Linked DNA regions of Homo sapiens: region 2 is linked to region 1. The links come from fine-mapping of genetic effects on gene expression. A gene starts in region 1. The other region holds a variant in brackets. All regions are shown on one strand. Distances are from middle to middle.

Region 1 (5,525 bases):
ACATAAAATAAGAACGAACTAAGAGCTACCCAGTGGTAAGACGCAAACTTCTGAGTGACTTTGGGTTTCCTGCGCCTGTTATCCCAGCACTTTGGGAGGCCGAGGCGGGTGGATCACTTGAGGTCGGGAGTTCAAGACCTGCCTGGCCAACGTGGCGAAACCCCGTCTCTACTAAAAAAAAAAAATACAAAATTAGCTGGGTGTGGTGGCACATGCCTATAAGCTTGAACCGGGAGGCAGAGGTTGTAGTGAGTAGAGATCGCGCCACTGCACTCCAGCCTGGGCGACAGACTGAGACTCCGTCACACACACAAAAAAAAAAAAAAAAAAAGAAAGAAAGACCAAGCAGAATGCAAATAAAAGGTCTGAAGAACAAGTTTTGTTAATTTGCCACAACAGACTGTACTCCAGGGGAAGCTTTGTTGTCCATTAAAGTGAGTTCTCTGGGAAGACGAGGAGTAACCGACTTGCACGATTTTCCTGCCTTTTCTATATTCTCTACTTACTATGACAATACAGCACTAGAATTTCCAAGTGCTTATACCAGCATAGTGCAATGTATTTAATGAGAAACCACGTCCAACAACAAAGCGTTATAACTTCTCCAGCTGAGTTAGATGTTTTAGTCTGAACCAGGAAAACAGATGAAGAAAGTTGAACCAAGAATTAAAAGATTTAGAGTTTCCACTCAGACCTAAGACTCTCCACTTTGTTTCAGAGGGAGTGGGTATGGTTATTCTGAAGAAGAAGGCGGCCCTTATCCTGAATGCCCGGTAGCCTCCGTGGGCTGGTGGGTGGTTCCTCCGGTCCAGCACCTCCATAATTTATGATCAAATGCCCAAGCCAACAAACTAATCCTCCCCTTCTCCCCCACAAGGAGGCAACCTTTATGTCAGAACAATGTGCCCAGAAGAAGCCAAAGACACAAGGCACATCCAAGGCAAAGACAATCTTAATTAAGCACTTTCTCCTTCCACTTTCTCCACACCTTTACCCCCGGCCCAACCCCTTCCCATAATTTCAAGCTGTACAAAATGAGGTCCTAGGGTGGATCCGGGTGGTCTTTCCTTTCTCTACGGGTAAGCTCTACAAAGAGGCGAAAGCTCCGAGTGTTAGTTCTTGTTTGTGTATAAATTCTGAAAAGCAACGCTGGCCTGCGAGCTATGAAAAGCAGAAGCATGAGTCACCACGCAACGGGTCAATCAAACCTGTAGACCAGAAGGCACGGATCTGGCAAACGGACGGTGAGCCAGGAAAAAAACATCCCCCCAAACCTCTCCGCTGACAGGTTTATCTAGCTGGCTGACCTTGGGCAGGTCACCAGCCGCTCCGAGCACATTCATGTCTAAGATGAGATGGGGGCTGGAAAGCCTTCCAAGAAATAATCCCTTCCGAGTGGTGACGGTCTATGCAACTTTTGAATAAACACATCCTAAGAGGCAACGGAGAAGTTTCTAAAGAGTTGAAATTTTTCAACAAAAGGAGGAGGGAAAAGTGCTCGGTAAAAACACAACGGAGTAACTGGTTTTGGCCTCCGACCAGACGCGAGGGGAGAGAAGAGTGAGAAGTTAGACCCCTGTGATAAAGGGAAAAGGCAGCAGCGGAGACCCGGGCAGGAGCTGCAGCGCCCAGCCGGGGCGAGCTGGGGTGCGCAAGGCCTACCGCGGGTGGGCCCGGCAGGGCAGGGCAGGGCAGGGCGGGGCGGGGCGCCCGCCGCGCTACCCTCCTGGGAAAGGCCGTGGAGGCGCCGGCCGGCGGCTGAGGAGAAACGCCAGCTTTCGGTATGGAATATCGGGAAAGGGCTCTCAGAGCGAAAACTAGCTGCGCCGGCTGCTGGGAAGCCGACGCTGGGCCCGCAGAGAAGGCGCGCGCTCGCGAGGCCCCCCCCAAGTGGATGGGGCGGCGTGGGGGGAGGGGCCGCAAGGGTGGGGGAGGGGAGGTCGCGGGCCTCTCACAATAACACCTCGCAGCCCCTTCCGACCCCCGCCTCTAAGCCACCGGTTCCCTGCGACCCTGGATGCACTCACTGAAGTAGAGGGTCCGTGCGGGCCCCAAGCGGCTGAGGCGTCGGCGGGTGGCGCGTCGGTCGCTCGCTCGGTCCCGTCGGTCCCGCTCCGGCGCGTCCCTCCTCCGGCCCCAGCACCAGCAGCAGCTCCTCCACTTCCGGTTCCCCTGCCACTCAGCCAAATGGCTTCCGGAAGTCCCGCCCCCATCCTGCCACGCCTCAGCGTGGTTCCTCTCTCCCCGCCTTCGCTCTCCCGGGCGCTGGCGGCGTGCGCCCAGGTGTCCCGCCACACCCCGTTGGGTACCCTGCTTTGTTCTCGCGGTTACCCCCATTTTGTGTGGCGTCTGAGGGACATGGGCTTCTCTCTTTACTCCAGCTGCATCTCTCAATCCTGCGTTCGTGCCACCGCAGTGTGGAGCTGGCATTCGGGACGATGTGGCGTGAAGTCACACTGACGCCATTCCCTTCACACTCAGCCAACTTGGCTTCCTCTTCCACCCATGGAATAAACCAGACTGCTGAAAGTGGGAGGGAAATAGCGGACCAAGGTTAAGGAGGCAGTACCTGACATTTATTAGTGGAATTTCTGTTTCTATGATGAATGTGGAGATTTTGGGTGACCGCCTGTAAAGGTGATACATAGGGGGATGACGAACCCCAGGCTTTTCCTTAAAAGATACATCCAGTTTAGGGGAAGACATACATATACAAAGTCAATATTGAAAAGATTATATGCTAAATAAATGCAGGATCTATAAAAGTAGAGAGGAGGGGCAAGAGATGTGCTCAAGCTTATAGCAGCGCAACGGTTGCTGGAGCAGTGCCCTGAACTGGCCCTTTAAGGATCTCAGCTCTATGCTGGTGAATAGGCAGAGCCTTCCAGGGCTCTTAAACTGATGCGGGGGTGGGGGTTGATTTTGCTGACAAAACCTGTTAAGAATACTGTAAAATCCTGGGAGCCTAAAATGTCAAGATATGTCAAGTAATTTTTCTTTTTTTTTTTTTTTTTTATTCAAGTTCTAGGGTACATGTGCACAACGTGCAGGTTTGTTACATAGGTATACGTGTGCCATGTTGGTTTGCTGCACCCATCAACTCGTCATTTACATTCCGTATTTCTCCTAATGCTATCCCTCCCCCAGCCCCGCAGTCCCCGACAGGCCCCCGTGTGTGATGTTCCCCGCCCTTTGTCCAAGTGTTCTCAGTGTTCAATTCCCACCTATGAGAACATGCGGTGTTTGGTTTTCTGTCCTTGTGATAGTTTGCTGAGAATGATGGTTTCCAGTTTCGTCCATGTCCCTGCAAAGGATATGAACTCATCCTTTTTACAGCTGCATAGTATTTCGTGGTGTATATGTGCCACATTTTCTTAATCCAGTCTATCATTGATGGACATTTGGGTTGGTTCCAAGTCTTTGCTATTGTGAATAGTGCCACAATAAACATACGTGTGCATGTATCTTTATAGCAGCATGATTTATAATCCTTTGGGTATATACCCAGTAATGGGATGGCTGGGTCAAATGGTATTTCTAGTTCTAGATCCTTGAGGAATCGCCACACTGTCTTTCACAATGGTTGAATTAATTTACACTCCCTCCAACAGTGTAAAAGTGTTCCTCTTTCTCCACATCCTCTCCAGCATCTGTTGTTTCCTGACTTTTTAATGATCGCCATTCTAACTGGCATGAGATGGTATCTCATTGTGGTTTTGATTTGCATTTCTCTGATGACCAGTGATGATGAGCATTTTTTCATGTGTCTGTTGGTTGCATAAATGTCTTCTTTTGAGAAGTGTCTGTTCATATCCTTTGCCCACTTTTTGATGGGGTTGTTTGTTTTTTTTCTTGTAAATTTGTTTAAGTTCTTTGTAGATTCTGGATATTAGCCCTTTGTCAGATGGGTAGATTGCAAAAATTTTCTCCCATTCTGTAGGTTGCCTGTTCGCTCTGATGGTAGTTTCTTTTGCCATGCAGAAGCTCTTTAGTTTAATTATATCCCATTTGTCTATTCTGGCTTTTGTTGCCATTGCTTGTGGTGTTTTAGTCAGGAAGTCTTTGCCCATGCCTATGTCCTGAATGGTATTGCCTATGTTTTCTTCTAGGGTTTTTATGGTTTTAGGTCTAACATTTAAGTCTTTACTCCATCTTGAATTAATTTTTGTATAAGGTGTAAGGAAGGGATCCAGTTTCAGCTTTCTACATATGGCTAGCCAGTTTTCCTGGCACCATTTATTAAATAGGGAATCCTTTCCCCATTTCTTGTTTTTGTCAATTTGTCAAAGAGCAGATGGTTGTAGATGTGTGGTGTTATTTCTGAGGCCTCTGTTCTGTTCTGTTGGTCTATATATCTGTTTTGGTGCTAGTACCATGCCGTTTTGGTTACTGTAGCCTTGTAGTATAGTTTGAAGTCAGGTAGCGTGGTGCCTCCAGCTTTGTTCTTTTTGCTTAGGATTGTCTTGGCAATGCGGGCTCTTTTTTGGTTCCATATGAAGTTTAAAGTAGTTTTTTCCAATTCTGTGAAGAAAGTCTTTGGTAGCTTGATGGGGATGGCATTGAATCTATAAATTACCTTGGGCAGTATGGCCATTTTCACAATACTGATTCTTCCTATCCATGAGCATGGAATGTTCTTCCATTTGTTTGTGTCCTCTTTTATTTCACTGAGCAGTGGTTTGTAGTTCTCCTTGACGAGGTCCTTCACATCCCTTGTAAGTTGGATTCCTAGGTATTTTATTCTCTTTGTAGCAATTGTGAATGGGAGTTCACTCATGATTTGGCTCTCTGTTATTGTCTGTTATTGGTGTATAGGAGTGCTTGTGATTTTTGCACATTGATTTTGTATCCTGAGACTTTGCTGAAGTTGCTTATCAGCTTAAGGAGATCTTGGGCTGAGACAATGGGGTTTTCTAAATATACAATCATGTCATCTGCAAACAGGGAAAATTTGACTTCCTCTTTTCCTAATTGAATACCCTTTATTTCTTTCTCTTGCCTGATTGCCCTGGCCAGAACCTCCAACACTATGTTGAATAGGAGTGGTGAGAGAGGGCATCCTTGTCTTGTGCTGGTTTTCAAAGGGAATGCTTCCCGTTTTTGCCCATTCAGTATGATATTGGCTGTGGGTTTGTCATAAATAGCTCTTACTATTTTGAGATACGTTCCATCAATACCTAGTTTATTGCGAGCTTTTAGCATGAAGGGCTGCTGAATTTTGTCGAAGGCCTTTTCTGCATTGATATAATCATGTGGTTTTTGTCATTGGTTTTGTTTATGTGATGGATTACGTTTATCAATTTGTGTATGTTGAACCAGCCTTGCATCCCAGGGATGAACCCAACTTGATTGTGGTGGATAAGCTTTTTGATGTGCCACTGGATTCGGTTTGCCAGTATTTTATTGAGAATTTTCACATCAATGTTCATCAGGCGTATTGGCCTAAAATTCTCTTTTTTGTTATGTCTCTGCCGGGCATTAGTATCAGGATGATGCTGGCCTCATAAAATGAGTTAGGGAGTCTC
Region 2 (5,000 bases), 20 kb before region 1:
AAAGTTTTAGTATTATGGACAACACCATAATTAACACTTTTGTATATCCAATTTAAAAACAAAGAATATGGAAGGCTTATTGAGCAACATTCATACAACAAATATTTCCTAAGCAAATACTATGTACTAGTCACTGTACTTAACAGGTGGACTCTTAACACAATCCTTTCTGGAATAAGGCAGGTATAAATAAGTACCTCAACAAGTAAATGAAATGCCTTGTAATAAAAAAGATCTGGCCCCCCAGCAACTGTGGATAAAATCCAAACATCCCAACAGCATATGAATTCCTACATGACCTGGTCTGGCGCAGTGGCTCACGCCTGTAATCCCAGCACTTTGGGAGGATGAGGCGGGCAGATCACGAACGAGGTCAGGAGTTCGAGACCAGCCTGGCCAATATGGTGAAACCCCGTTTCTACTAAAAACAAACAAAAATTAGCCGGGCATGGTGGCATGCACCTGTAGTTCCAGCTACTTGGGATTTGAGGCAGAAGAATCACTTGAACCCGGGAGGCGGAGGTTGCAGTGAGCTAAGATCACGCCACTGCACTCCAGCCTGGGCAGTAGAGCGAGACTCCATCTCAAATTAAAAAAAAAAAAAAAAAATCCTACATGACCTGGTTGTGGCCTCCTTCTCCTAACCATCCCAGGCTCAAACTTTATGCAGCCTCCTCTGCTCACCCAACAAACACATACATGTACAAGCCTTTGCTCAATTCTCTTTATTTTTCTATAATACCTTCCTTCTTTCCCTATTTGTCTGGAAACCAATGAAGTCTTTGAATGCAGATGTCAACTTTTGTTAAACACGTTTTCACCTTACTCTAAACAGCACACAGTATAATAATTCTGTGTTGCTGTCTCCATACACTAGACTGTGAGCTCCTTGAGACCGAAACTATGTCTTACTCATTTTTGTATGCTCAAGAACTAGGATAGTGCCTTGTACACAGTGATCCTCAGGTTTTTTGAGTAAATGACTATCTTCCTAACACCATCTCACTAAAGAACTAAATTTGTATCAGATTTTGCTAAAACATGTTTCAAACTGACTAAGAATATCTACAGCTAGACATTTTTTTTTTTTTTTTGAGACCGAGTTTTGCTCTGTTGCCCAGGCTGGAGTGCAGTGGCACGATCTCGGCTCACTGCAACCTCCACCTCCCAGGTTTAAGAAATTCTCTGCTTCAGCCAGGCGTGATGGCTCACGTCTGTAATCGCAGCACTTTGGGAGGCCAAGGCAGGCAGATCACGAGGTCAGGAGATCGAGACCATGGCTAACACGGTGAAACCCCATCTCTACTAAAAATACAAAAAATTAGCCGGGTGTGGTGGCGGGCGCCTGTAGTCCCAGCTACTCGGGAGGCTGAGGCAGGAGAATGGTGTGAACCTGGGAGGCCGAGCTTGCAGTGAGCCGAGATCATGCCACTGCACTCCAGCCTAGGCGACAGAGCGAGACTCTGTCTCAAAAAAAAAAAAAAAGAAAAAAGAAATTATCTGTTTCAGCCTCCCGAATAGCTGGGATTACAGGCACGTGCCACCACGCCCAGCTAATTTTTTTGTATTTTTAGTAGAGACGAAGTTTCACCATCTTGGCCAGGCTGGTCTTGAAATCCTGACCTTGTGATCCACCCGCCTCGGCCTCCCAAAGTGCTGGGATTACAGACGTGAGCCACCACACCCGGCCTACAGCTAGACTTTTATACTGAAACAGACAGCTGTTCACCTTTGAGACCATGAAGAGTTAATGCTTTAATTCTACAAAAGGGTAGCACCTTTCTGTTCAGGGTACAACTATAAAGTATCCATTTTCTTGCTGATGAAATTTTTTATGTTTTAGAGAAGATTAGAATGTCTAATATACCACCTTTAACATATTAGCAGTAAAACAGGACACTTACAAAGTAATCCAAATATAGGTCT[A/G]ATAAAAAGACTCAGGATTCAGACAAATCTCATGTGCCATTGTGCAAAAAATTATGGAGGCCAAAAAAAGGAGTACTGAGGCACCAAACGGCTTCCATACTTTTTTTTTTTGAGACGGAGTCTCGCTCTGTCACCCAGGCTGGAGTGCAGTGGCACAATCTCTGCTCACTGTAAGCTCTGCCTCCCAAGTTCACGCCATTCTCCTGCCTCGGCCTCCCGAGTAGCTGGGACTACAGGCGCCTGCCACCACACCCGGCTAATTTTTTGTATTTTTATTAGAGACAGGGTTTCACCGTGTTAGCCAGGATGGACTTGATCTCCTGACCTCGTGATCCGCCCACCTTGGCCTCCCAAAGTGCTGGGATTACAGGCGTGAGCCACAGCGCCTGGCCACGGCTTCCATACTTCTAAACAAGGATGCGTGGATAAAAGATGGCCCCACAGCTGGTATGGGGAATGATGAAACCAGTAAGACAGTAAAATACATTAAAGAAGAGGTCAACGAAAGTATGATAAACTGCTTCCACCTCAAGGTTCTCTAATATTCATGAGCAATCACATTTCTAAAAAGATTCCTCAGCTGACCTAAAGATAACAAACTCTCTACCCACCAACGACTACATACCAATACAATGATTTTGGCCTGTGGCTGCCTTGTGTTGATAAGTTGTACAATGGCCTCGATCCCACCTGCTACTTCTTCTGCTGTATTTTCGTGGTTATTTGTTCCTACCCAGACAACAATGACCTGCAATTGAAGAAAAAAGGGGGGAAGGAGAAGATAAATACCCAGGAACAAAGGAACGTCCAACATTTAGATGAAAATCTTTTTTTTTTTTTTTTTTGAGATGGGGTCTCGCTCTATCACCCAGACTGGAGTGCAGTGGCACCATTTCGGCTCACTGCAACCTCCGCCTCCCAGGTTCAAGTGATTCTCCTGCCTCAGCCTCCCGAGTAGCTGGGACTACAGGCATGTGCCGCCACGCCCAGCTAATTTTTGTATTTTTAGTAGAGACCAGGGTTTCACCACGTTGCCCAGGCTGGTCTCAAACTCCTGACCTCAGGTAATCCACCCACCTTGGCATCCCAAAGTGCTGGGATTACAGGTGTGAGCCACCACGCCCGGCCGAAAATCTTATTTCAAAAAGCAAAGAAGGAAAGATAAACTTTTCAAATGGTGTTGGCTAACTTCAACTGGGCAGCTATCCTATTAAATTTTCTTTTAAGAGATAGAGGGTCATGCTATATTGCCCAGGCTGGTCTTAAACTCCTGGGCTCAATCCATCTTTCTTTGGCCTCCCAAAATGCTGGGACTACAAATGTTGAGCCAGGGCAGAAATCTTAATGCATCGATTTATGCCTCCTATCATATATCAGGATAAATTCCAAGGGGAATAATATTTAAGTGGTAAAATTGTACTAGGAGGAAACAAGAGAGAATTATATCATCATGCAGCAGGAAGCTGATTTCTCAAAATCCAAAAATTATACAAAAAAGATTAATAAACTGTATAAAAATAAAACCTGGCCAGGCACAGTGGGTCACATCTATAATCTCAATGCTTTGGGACACTGAGGTGGGAAGATTGATTCAGCCCAGGAGTTCAAGACTGCAAGTAAGCCATGATCATGCCACTGCACTCCAGCCTGGGTGACACAGCAAGAACCTGTCACGGTATAAATACACAGGTACACTCAAGGAAAAGAGTCACAGAGGTGGAGGCTGGATGCAACTTTAACAAATTTTTCTATTTATTTATTTTTGAAACGGAGTCTTCCTCTGTCACCCAGGCTGGAGTGCAGTGGTGTGATCCTGGCTCACTGCAACCTCCATCTCATGGGTTCAAGTGATTCTCCTGCCTCAGCTTCCTAAGGTGTGTGACACCATGCCTGGCTTTTTTTTTTTTTTTTTAAATCTAGAGACAGGGTTTCACCATGCTGGCCAGGGTGGTCGTGAACTCCTAGCCTCAAGTGATCTGCGTGCCTCAGCCTCCCAAAGTGCTAGGATTACAGGCATAACCCACCACGCTGATCCATCAAGTTTTTCTCTTTAGAGAAAAAAAAAAAAAATCACAGTCTCGCATGGTAGCTCAAGCCTATAATCCCAGTATTTTAGGAGGCCGGGGCGGGAGGATCATCATCTGAGGCCAGGAGTTTGACACCAGCCTAGGCAACATAACAAGACCAAGACCCTGTCTACAAAAAGAAATTTAAAAATTAGCTAAGCATGGTGGCACATGCCTGCAGTCCTAGCTATTTGGGAGGCTGAGGCCATAGGATCATCCGAGTCCAACAGTTTGAGGTTACAGTGAGCTATAATCATGCCACTGCATTCTAGTTTGGGCAACAGAGAGAACCTGTCTTAAAACAAACAACTTTCAATGAAAGCACGTTTTGTCAGGGCTCAGTTTTTGTTCTTTTTTGGGAGCTGAAACAATTATATACAGTGTGCCAACTCAGAGTATTTATGATATAAGATACTGGGTAGAAATGTTCATTTGTTCACATCTGCTTCTAATTTTCTTCAGATGAACTTGCAGGCCTCGATTACTGACCTGTTTATATGGTTAAACAGATCCAAAATTACTTCCTAAAGTTAATCATGGCCCTGCTCCCATGGCCCACCTCTGAGCAGTTTTCCCTCATACTGCCCGAGATCTATGCATTCCACAGAATAGCATACCTCGTTAGCATCAAATCTCTTCCTTCAGCCAGGCGCGGTGGCTCATGCTTGTAATTCTCCAGCACTTTTGGGAGGCCGAAGCGGGTGGATCACAAGGTCATGAGTTCAAGACCAGCCTGGCCAAGATGGTGAAACCCCATCTCTACCAAAAATACAAAAATTAGCTGGGCACAGTGGCGGCGCCTGTAATCCCAGCTACTCGGGAGGCTGAGGCAGGAGAATCGCTTGAACCCAGGAGGCGGAGGTTGCAGTGAGCTGAGATCACACCACTGCACTCTAGCCTGGGTGACAAAGCAAGACTCCATCTCAAAAAAAAAAAAAACTCTTCCTTCAACTTAAGAAAGTAATTATAACAACTATAAATACAACCCAATAGGCAAACAATTCACTA

The links. PIP is the estimated chance that this variant, and not a neighbour inherited with it, causes the effect. A credible set is the group of variants that fine-mapping cannot tell apart.
Region 2: its variant is the best candidate, but not a certain one, in a credible set for the expression of PAFAH1B2 in whole blood (TOPMed, PIP 0.75).

What each region holds. Positions count from the first base shown.
Region 1 is chr11:117,140,921-117,146,445 of GRCh38, reverse strand. It overlaps PAFAH1B2 (platelet activating factor acetylhydrolase 1b catalytic subunit 2), which reads right to left and starts at 2,159. Exons shown (of 6, transcript NM_002572.4): 1 at 2,028-2,159. RefSeq lists an enhancer at 900-1,079 and a silencer at 1,630-1,949.
Region 2 is chr11:117,161,444-117,166,443 of GRCh38, reverse strand. It overlaps PAFAH1B2 (platelet activating factor acetylhydrolase 1b catalytic subunit 2), which reads right to left. Exons shown (of 6, transcript NM_002572.4): 5 at 2,552-2,674. Among named protein-coding and RNA genes, the nearest start is that of SIDT2, 15 kb to the left of the region's middle. The variant A/G (reference allele first, on the strand shown) is at 1,927.